2 separate regions of the Homo sapiens genome follow, and region 2 is linked to region 1. Evidence: fine-mapped expression QTL. A gene starts in region 1. The other region holds a variant in brackets. All regions are shown on one strand. Distances are between the middles of the regions.

Region 1 (5,372 bases):
AGGCTGAGGCTGGAGAATCACTTGAACCTGGGAGGCAGAGGTTGCAGTGAGCTGAGATCGCACCATTGCACTCCAGCCTCGGCGACGAGGGCAAAACTCCCTCTCAAAAAATAAAAAATAAAAATAAATAAATAAAAACAAAATTTGAGGCTTAAACAATTAAGCTTCGTGCATCTCTTTAATTTTTCTTTTTTTTTTTTAACTCTAATTTCATGACAGATTAAGCTTCATGCATCTCAAAAATGTGTAGAACCCTCATTCCCAGCCTTCCCTCCCTCTCTCTTGTCCTTCTTTCTGATTTCTTGGAATCGGAAGGAAAATTCGGATATCCAGGAACCATCACACAGGAGGCACCCATGTGATGTGTCCAACATCACTCCACGCAGGTGTCCTTGGGTCCTGGGTGCCCAGGTTCCTGTGAATTGTGACCCCAGGCAGAAGCGTGAGCATCCGCAGAGGAACCCACCTACCCAAAGCCAGGGAACAGCCAGGGCTGGCATCCTCAGGGTGACTGTGCTCCAGGGCACCTCTGACTTGTGCTGAGTAAAATGGACAAAGCCAGCAATGCACCCATAACCCAGATTCTTGAGACACCGCTGGACTTTGGGAATCCCAGGCATTAGGCTCGTGGCAGTGTCATCATGGCTAGGCTGGGGGCAGTGTCATCATGGTGCTTGCTGGCCAAGTCAGGACACGGCCTAAGCCGGAATCTGCTGGTGCTGGTACAAGCGGTGAGTGGGCGTGTGGGTGGGGGTTGCGGTTAGGGTGTGGACATCCCAGAATCCAGGACGCTGTTCACAATTCGTCCATACTCCCTGCTCCCCTCCCTTACAGCACTTCCCTCCCGAGGCCTCCTGAGCCTCTAACCCCCAGATAAGGAAAGGGGTGGACTCAGTTGAAGTCCAGTGTCCACTCCGGTCCAATCAGCTCTACCTGGGGTGAGGGGAAACTCCTCTGGCTGGGCTGCTCCCTCTGCAGGGCTGTGGCTGGACAGATTACTCAAGAAAGGAAGCAGGTGGGCCGGAACGAACCCACGGTGCCACATAGGCCTCCGTTCTCATGCATATAAGTTTCCCACACTCAGGCAGGAAATGAAAATGCTTCTTGGACCCCCAAGGAGAGTAAAGGAGAGGGGAAGAGGAGGAGGATTTTTCGGGGCTGTTAGTGACACTTTCAGCCTCCTGTGCATTTTTGGGAGGGCTGCAGGAGAAGGCAATGCTGCGCCCCTACCCAGAACTAGCGAGCGCTTCCCAACTGGCCTCCCGCCTTCCTCTCGTCCTCTACGGCCTCCATTGGCAGCTGTGCAAGGGCCCGGCCCTGCCTCTGTCTCTCCACACTCGCTGTGATACCTCAGGCCTCCCAGGCTCCGCCACGCCCTTCCCTCTTTCGGGAACAGCTGCCTTCCATCACCTTGGCTGCCTGGCTAATTCCTGCTCATTCCTTAAAACCCTGTTTTGATTTCGCCTCAATAAAACTCTGACACCACCCTCCAGTCATAATTAGTCACTTCTTCCTCTGTACGTTGGAAACACCGCTTTATCGTGGAGACTTTAAGGATATCCAAGTAGAGAGAATTCTTCCGTGCAAGTTTTGCATCCTCTCACCACTGCCTGCGTTACCCGAGTTGTAAAGGGCGGCTCCCTGTGTCTGCCCCGCTGCACCGATACACCGAGCTGCGCACGGTGCCCAGCGCAGGGAGAACAAATGATCATCTGTCCAACGCGCCCATTTACAGGTGAGGAAACTAAGGCTCCAACTCAATCGACGCACTCTGCCCTTTTGATTACCAGAAAAGTAGCAGGACAGGTGTCCTGTCCCGCCCTACCCCGGCCCACTAAGCCGGCACCCCGGCTCCGACCCCCGGCTGTGCCCGGCGCCGCCGCGGTGCCCGGCGCCGCCGCCTCGCCCGGCGGGGCCGCCCGGAGCGCCCGCACCTCCGCCCGCTTCCACCTGGCCGGGCCCGCCCCGCCCGGACTCGGGACTGGGAAGTGCGGCGACTCCCGGAACCAGCCATTGGCGCCAGCGCGGGGAGCTGGGGGTGCAGAGCTGCGGGCGCGGCGGGCCACGCAGGCGGCCCCCACCCCCGGCCTGGCCTGGTCTGGTCTGGTCTGCGCTGCCGCGCGGGGGCGCCCCCTCCCAGGCCCGGCGCCCGCCAGCCCCGCTCCGCCAGGTGCAGCGCAGCGCAGGGGTGGGCGGGGGTGGGGCTCGGCGCGCACGTTCACGGGGCGGGGAGGGGGCGGGTCAGGGGCGGGACCACAGCCGGCTGGGCCGGGGTTCTATGCGCATCTCCGGGGAGGGGCGGGGCGGGGGCGGGGCCGGGGCGGGGCCCGGTCGGTGCACTCCAGACGGCGGGCCGCCCCCTCTTCCCGCCTTCCTACTACCGGCCCAGGATTAGCGCCCTGGGAGCGCGCGCCCCGCTGCCTCGCCGCCACACTTTCCTGGGAGCGGCGGCCACGGAGGCACCATGAAGAAGTCTTACTCAGGTGGGCTTCGCGCCCGGGGTGGGGAGGGGTCGGTGTCCCGGGACCAGCGCTGCTCACCTGAGTGCCTGCGGCCGGGAGTGGCGAGGCGCCCCCGGAGCTGAGCGAGTCCCCGCGGCGGGCACACTGCAGGTCGAGTTCCTCCCAGGACAGGGCCGCTGTCGGGCCGCTTTCGACCTGAGCCGACCGTCCCCTGCGCTGTCTCCAGCCCTTGCTCGAGTGTCGGAGGGGCTGCCCTGGGGGACGCTCCCTCTTCCTCGCCCCTTGCACCCTCGCAGGAATCGCTGACTTTCCAGGTCGGCCGGGTGCTTTGGGTCCCTGTGCGTCTGTGTGGGTGAATGGGGTCGGGGCTAGGTGGAGGGGTGTCCTTGGGTTCAGCCTCTAGGGCTGGTGGTCCAGGCCGCAGCATCCTTTCTTCGGATTCTCTTCGGTTTCTCCTCTACTTAGTGGGGCACGGGACGGCCTCCAGATGGGACCGTCCAGCAGCGCCCAAACTTGGCGACTCGGGTTCACGTTTTGCGCTCAGGACGCCGCCCGCGGCTGACATCCTCACTCCACCCTAGCAGGGCCCGCCTTAAGTAGGCGAAGGGGGCCTGACTTGGGCCTCACCATGAGCCGGTTCAGGAGCTTTCATTTCATAAGAGGCTCCCGCTCTGGCACTCTGAAGTTCCATTTCACAGATGGGCACACCGAGGCCACAAGGGCAGGTTAAGAGAAATCCAGATCTTCATTATTTGTCTTTTCCTTCCTTTTTTTTTTCCTTTGTGGTTTTCTCCAAAGGATCCAGGCAGGCAGGATCCTTTGTCCTCCTCAGTCCTCAAATTATAAATAGCGTCTCCTCTTCTAAATCTAGAAACCGTTTGTTTAATGTCCCTCCTTTAATTCATTCAGATAGAAAGGTACCTGCCAAGGATCCATGAATTAATTTTTATTGATAGGAGAACAGAATCATGGGCCTTAGTTGGAGGTGAAGGAGTCATCGGGGCCATCCCCCTGCCTTTGGGCCATTGTCGGTTTCCTCTGGCTTTCCATATTTAGGAACCAAAATGAGTGATAAAGTACCTTGTCTCAAAGAGGATTACTCAGAACTTCCCCGAAAATACCCTTCTGGGTCAGTAGCTTAGAATTTCAACTTTCACCCGGTTGTTGCGAACAAGATGGCCCTCTACGCACCCGGAGCACAGCTCTGTCAGGAGCGTGGGTGGGTTGGTGTGCTGGTGGGCGGGAGCGGGCTTCCAGGTGGCACATGCTTGGTTTTGGCACCGGGGCTTCCTCCCCAACATGCTCCAAATACTTGAGATTGTTGTGGGGATCGCGCGGTGCATGGCCCTTTCCAGGGGATCTCTAGCCCGCCCAGGGAGGGCCCTTTGCCCTTGGTTTCTTACACTTTACCTCCCACTGGTGGGTCCAGACAGTGGGGGTGACCGGGGTCCTCCCAGGTCGTGGGTCCTGGGTTTTTTCTGCGGAGACCCTCCTGCACAGATGCCGGAAGGGCCCTGAGGCAGGCTTGGAGTCTCTGCACCTGCGGCTTACTGGGAGGTGGGGAGACCATCACTTGTCCTTTTCTCCTCTCCTCCACACACACCTACCCCACCCCTCACTGGGTTTCTTTTTTTTTTTTTTTTTTAAAAAAAAGGACAGAACCTTTTGCAGTAGGTGGAAGTAGAGTTTGTGGAGTGAGCAGGAACCAACTCTTGTACAGCAGCCTCGGTGCCTCCTTGTGTTTACCTAAAGGGGCAGGCCCCTCTGAGGATGGGGGAAGGGAGGGCTCAGACCATTTCTGGTTTGCTCCCTGCTTGGCAGTGGCCCAAGGTGTGCTGGGTCACTGTGTTGCAGTTGTATGGAGTGGGACTGGAGGGGGCTGATGGTGGGGGTGGCCTCTTGCCCTCATTCTGAGTGTCCTGGAGCTGTCTTGGCACCAGCCCTTTTCCGGGTACGGGCACTCGCAGGAGTCAGGCTGACCCCCCAACAAGCCATCGACACCATGAAATTAAGGAAAGCAGCAAAAGATGTTAAAAATCCCCCAAGGCTCTGACAATCCAAGGACAACAGGAAGGTCTTTATTTTTTCATCTAGACTGTGCGGGATTATTGCTTCCAGACCTGTATGTGGGCTTCAGAATAAACGGAATGACCATAATGTTGTTCCCGGTAGACCTGGTTTGAACATTCGTGAGCCTCTGAAAAGGAGAAAGATTTTAGAAGGATGTGTTGGGGCAATCTCAAGTACCGTGGGTCTATAGACAGTCATCGAAGACACTTTATGTGCTGGGCACACATGGCCAAGTCTGAGTGGGTACAGAAATGGTAATGAGATATAGTCCTTGCCTGCAGAGAACTTACATTCTCACCGGGAGTCAGGATGAGGGCGAGACACCAGCTCATTAACACCCTTCCCTCCTGAGCAGTTCAGCCTCCAAATACTACAGGAATGCCCCGGAGGTTTTAGGTGGAGGTGAGATTGAGCTGGGCCTTGAGGAAGGAGAAGTCTTGAGTAGTGGAGAATAAAAAGGGACTTGGCCAGGTGCGCTTGAAGTCCCAGCTACTCAGGAGGCTGAGACACGAGGATCGCTTGAGCCCAGGAGGCTACTCAGGAGGCTGAGACACGAGGATCGCTTGAGCCCAGGAGGCTACTCAGGAGGCTGAGACAGGAGGATCGCTTGAAGCCAGGAGTTCAAGGCTGCAGCCCTGTGACAGCGCCTGGAAATAGACACGGCACTCCAGCCTGGGTGGCGTCATGAGACCCCATCTGTAAGAAGGTCTTTTCCAATGCGGAAGGCAGCAAGGGCCCACACAGGGCAGCTGCAGGATCCAGGGGGACACTGGGGACAGGTTCTCTCTGGCAGCTCCACTGCTGCTCCAGGCTTTCCCGATTGCCTCACCCGGCCTTCCA
Region 2 (5,372 bases), 68 kb after region 1:
AAAAAAAAAAAAGAGTCTCCACCTATGATTGTGGAATTGCCCATTTCTCCCTTTAATTCTTTCAGGTTTTATATCATGTATTTTGAAGCTCCTTTGGTTAGGTGCATACACATTTATGATTATAATGGTGTCTCGATGAACTGATCATTTAACCATGATGAATGTATTCCTTTATCTCGTAATAATTTTATCTTGGACTCAACTTTATTGATATTTATGTAGCCTCTCCAGCCTTCTTAAACATGCTGTTTGGGATGCATAAGAAGGCTGGAGAGGCTTATGGAGAAACTTATGATGGTTTGACTTACAGTTTTTCAACTTTACCATGGTGCGAACGTGGTATGTATACAGTAGAAACTGTACTTTAAGTATGTGTGAAACCATTGTGTTTCTCACTTTCAGTACAGTATTCAATAACTTACATGAGATAGTCAACACTTTATTATAAAATAGGCTTTGTGTTTGTTGATTTTGCTCAACTGTAGGCTGAAGTAAGTGTTCTAATCATGTTAAGGTAGGCTAGGCTAAGCTAGAATGTTCGGTAAGTTAGATGTATTAAGTGCATTTTTGAGATGATATTTATTTTCCACTTATGATGGGTTTGTCAAGACATAACTCCATCATCATTCAAGCAGCATCAGTATGTCTTTTTCCAAACAGAAAATTTCAACCTGTGTTTATACTGAAACAGCATCTTTTGTAGATAGTATATAGTTGAGTCTTGCTATTTTATTCATTCTGACAGCCTCCGCCTTTTAATTGGAATATTCAGGCTATTTCTGTTTAACATAGTTATAGATATGACTGGGTTTAGAGCTACTACCTTGCTCTTTGATATTTATTTCTTTCATCTTGCTTTCTTGGCTTCTTTTATGTTAATTAAGTATTTTTTAGAATTCTATTTTAATTTATGTTTTTTTTTTTTTTTTTTTTTTAAGACAGAGTCTCACTCTGTTGCCCAGGCTGGAGTGCAATAGCATGATCTTGGCTCACTGCAACCTCTGCCTCCTGGGTTCAAGTGATTCTCCTGCCTCAGCTTCCCTAGTATACTGGGATTACAGACGCCTGCCACCACGGCCGGCTAATTTTTGTATTTTTAGTAAAGACGGGGTTTCACCATGCTGGCCAGGCTGGCCTCGAACTCCTGACCTCAGGCGATCCGCCCACCCTGGCCTCCCAAAGTGCTGGGATTACAAGCGTGAGCCACTGAGCCCGGCCTGTTTTGACTTTTTAATTGTATCTCTTTGTATTGCTATTTTAGTAGTTACTTTATAGATTCTATTGCACATTCTTAGCTTTTCACAGTCTACTTAGAATTAACATTGTTTTTCTTCATGGAAAAAAAGTGTAAGAACTAGGCAATCCTATGGGTTCATTTACCACTTTCCATCCTGTATGTGATGGTTGTTAGATATTTACTACATCCATACACATTGTAAACTAGACAATACAATAAGGAAATTTTTGCTTTAAACAGCCCCATGCATTTTAAAGAAATTAAAAGTAAAACAGAATCTTTTCTATTTGCCCATGTATTTGCTATATCCTGTGCTCTTCATTCCTTCCTGAAGAGCTGAGTTCCCATCTGGTCTCATTTCCCATGATCTTGGAGAACTTGCTTCACGGTTTTTGTAGTGCAGGTTTGCAGACAGCTAATTCCCTTTCATTTTCACTTATCTGCAAATCTTTATTTTGCTGTCATTCTTTCTTTTTTTATTTTTATTTTTATTTTTGAGACAGAGTCTCACTCTGTCTCCCCACAGGCTACAGTGCAATGGTGTGATTTCAAAACTCCTGCCCAATCTCAACTCACCAACCTTCTCCTCCCGGGCTCAAACGATTCTCCTGCCTCAGCCTCCCAAGTAGCTGGGACTACAGGCATGTGCCATCATACCCAGCTAATTTTTGTATTTTTAGTAGAGATGGGATTTCACCATGATGGCCAGGCTGGTCTCGAACTCCTGACCTCAAGTGATCTGCCTGCTTTGGCCTC[C/T]TAAAATGCTGGGATTATAGGTGTGAGCCACTGTGCCCAGCCTGCTGTCATTCTTGAACCATAATTTCACTGGTTATAGAATTCTGAGTTGTCAGTTTTTTCTTTCAGGACTTTAAAATATAGGGTTCCAGTGTCTTTGGCCTCCGTTGTTTCTGTCAAGGAATCAGCATTCATCTAGCTATTCCCCTGTAGACCACATGTTGTTTTTCCCTGGATGCTTTTAAGACTTTTTATCCAAGTTTGATTGCTCAGTACCTACCTCTGGGCAAAAAAGCCTCCAGAAACCAGAAACTTATCTAGTTTTATTCCCCTCTGTCAGGTGTAGACTCTACTCCAGCTTCTACCTACTTGAGATATTCTATACTGACTCCAGGCTGTTGTTATTTTGTTCTTTCAAATATTTTGTCCAGAGCTATAATGTTTTCTGCAGAATTGACCAGATAGCAGCTACTCTCTGTGACCAGGAGCCTTGATCTTCCAGACTTGCTGATGGGCTCACAAAGCTCCTGCCCGTGGCCCTCAGTTGGCAGTGGCCTCTCTGCCTTGAAGTTGCCATGAGTGTGTAAAACCTACAGGCTCAACCTTCCTCATTAGTACAGTCCAGAAAAGTGGAATTCCTGGTCTGGGTGGCTATGGTGCCCTAGACCACTGGCTAGACCAGGGTGGTGACTGCCAGCTGGCCGAATGTGGGGTCTCCAGCCTAGCACCCTTGGACTCTACCCCAGGAGTTATGGCTGTTTCAGGGCCAGGGGCCTGGCCTCAGCCCCTGTCCCCCTTCTCTTCTCCTCAAGTTGCCCAGCATCAGGTCCCAACCAGCATCTTTTGCAGACAGGGTGGGTCGGCTCCTCACTAGAGGGGCAGGGTTGGGCGGGAAGCCTGTTGAGCCCTCCTTCCTGTGCAGCCCACAGCCCTGGGGTTAGCTCCAGAGGGGTGCAGAAAGGAGCCCCCAAAGGCAGAAACTCACCCTTCTCTCTGTTCTTGTGCTTCCAGGGATAAAGGAGAGGTGGTCCTAGCTGGGGGGCTACCAGTGGCATGCAGGAGGCCCACATGACCACTGTTTGCTGGGGCCTTTCCTTCTCTGTGAGAGAGACGAGAGAGAGGAGAGAGAGTGTGAGTCAGGGTAGTGTCTTCTTCCAGTAACGCAGACTTCTGCACGTGTTCTCTAGGAGAAATCCCGTCACTCGCTAGAGCTCTAGATCTGGAAGAAGCTCTGCCTCTCTTCTCTCCTCCAGTGCAGTGTGTGTGTGTGTGTGTGTGTGTGTGTCCCCACATGCATTACACCCTTCTACAGAGGAAATAATTCCCGTCCAAGTGCAAAGGTTGGGATTGGAGCAGGCAGCATGTGGGCTAAAGGAGCAGAGAGGAGGAAACGGGGGCGGGGGTGAGGGTGGGAACAGGAGGTGGGTAGATGCCACGAGGCATGCCTTCCACAACTAGAAGGGCTGGTGGAGATGACCAGAATGCTCCAGACAGACCTTTTATCAAACTTCCAAAATTCAATCTTGTTTCATGAAGCCTGAGGACCCTGCAGAGTGAAAGACAAGGAAGGGCTTTCCTGCAGGGGGGTGTGTGTGCCTGTGTGTGCCTGTGTGCTGTGTGCCCCCATGTGTGTGCACGTGTGGACCTGTGTGGTGTGTGCCTGCACATGTGTGCACGTGTGGACCTGTGTGGTGTGTGCTGAGTGTGTATATGTGTGTGCCTGTGTGCTGTGTATGCACTTGCACATGTGTACACAGATCTCATTTTCCTTTTTTCTGGCTTACTAAGTGCCAGAAAGAATTTCCGTGAGCCTCTCCACCCTTCCCAAGGCTGCACATGGAGGGACTTGCGCAGGCACATGTGCGCGTGCACACAACACACACACACACACACACACACACACACACACACACACACGAGTCAGGGGCGAGCACTCCTGTGGATTGTACCTAGGCCTGGCAGGAAACCGGGTTCTGGGAAACTGTAGGCCCCACCTTTGGCAGAAAACCATGTTTTTGTTGCTGCTCGTTGAAGGGAACATTAAGTGGGGCTGGGGACAGTTTATGTTGAGAAGAGCAAATTTTGCCTATGGCACTGGGGACATTGAGTGGCTCCTGTCCCGGGCTCTGGAGGGCTTGGGAGACACGTCTGCAGCTCTGGGCATCTCTCAAGGTCACGGGCGGCCACACTCAAGGTTAGGCCCTCCTCTGTGTGAGCTGCGGTCAGCAGGAAGGCTGACCTCAGAGGCGGCCCCAGGGCCCTTGGAGGCCCTGCCCCTGAGACATGGGCCAAGGTCAGAGAGCCGAGAAGGCTGCTGCTGAGGACTCTGGTTGGCGCCCAGCCCAGCGGCCCTTCAGGCGGGCCCTGTGCAGGGGCTGATGAAGTCAGCTGGGAAATCTGTGAAATAAAGCACAGGTCCCCCAGGCTTGCCCAGAGCCCCGGCATCAGATGAGGTGCAGAGAAGGGAACTGAGCTGCCAAGTGTGAACAGGAGAGAGGAGCCCCAGGACCACACAGGGGCCCCGACATGGCAGGTGCTTGGTCAGCAGCGGTGCTGCCCTTACTGCTGGACGTGGGAAAATGCACTGACACTTGCTGACCAGAGCCGGGGTGAGCATCTGGGTGACCCTGCAGATGAGACAAAATAAGGGCTGCCGTGGGGGAGGGGCCCTTGCCGGGCCACCCTGCTGAGGCCCTGTGTTACTGTCCTGCGGCTGTCATAACAAAGGACCACAAATGAGGTGACTCAAAACATCCGAAATCGGCCACGTGCGGTGGCTCATGCCTGTAATCCCAGCACTTTGGGAGGCCGAGGCGGTTGGATCACGAGGTCAGGAGATCGAGACCATCCTGGCTAACATGGTGAAACCCCGTCTCTACTAAAAATACAAAAAAAAAAAAAAAATTAGCCGGGCGTGGTGGTGGGTGCCTGTAGTCCCAGCTGCTCAGGAGGCTGAGGCAGGAGAATGGCATGAACCTTGGAGGTGGAGGTTGCAGTGAGCCGAGATCGCGCCATTGCACTCCAGCCTGGGTGACAGAGCAAGACTCCGTCTCAAAAACAAAAACAAAAACAAAAACAAAAACATCCGAAATGTCTTCCCTAAAGTTTCTGGAGCCAGAAATCCCAGACCGAGGTGTCTGAAGGTTCATTCCTCCTGGGGGTTCCGAGGGAGACTGTCCCATGCCTTTCTCCGAGCTCTGCGGCGGCCAGCAACCCCTGGTATTCCTCGGCTTGCAGCTCGGCCTACCCCCCACCTGGCCTTCACCCTGTGTCTCTTCTTGTGTCTCTGTCCAAACTGCCCTCTCTGTTGTCTTTTTAATTTATTTTTAGGGACAGGTTCTCATTCTGTCCTCCAGGCTGGAGTGCAGTGGCGTGATCATGGCTCACTGCAGCCTCAGCC

Evidence for each region.
Region 2: its variant is fine-mapped to the expression of SEPTIN9 in whole blood (INTERVAL, PIP above 0.99).

Annotation. Positions count from the first base shown.
Region 1 is chr17:77,279,072-77,284,443 of GRCh38, forward strand. It overlaps SEPTIN9 (septin 9), which reads left to right and starts at 2,428. Exons shown (of 12, transcript NM_001113491.2): 1 at 2,428-2,483. The coding sequence starts at 2,465. It overlaps SEPTIN9-DT (SEPTIN9 divergent transcript), which reads right to left and starts at 2,826. Exons shown (of 3, transcript NR_136503.1): 1 at 2,541-2,826. RefSeq lists an enhancer at 510-1,157 and a silencer at 2,759-2,922.
Region 2 is chr17:77,347,382-77,352,753 of GRCh38, forward strand. All of the region lies in intron 2 of SEPTIN9 (septin 9), which reads left to right. Among named protein-coding and RNA genes, the nearest start is that of MIR4316, 47 kb to the right of the region's middle. The variant C/T (reference allele first, on the strand shown) is at 1,994.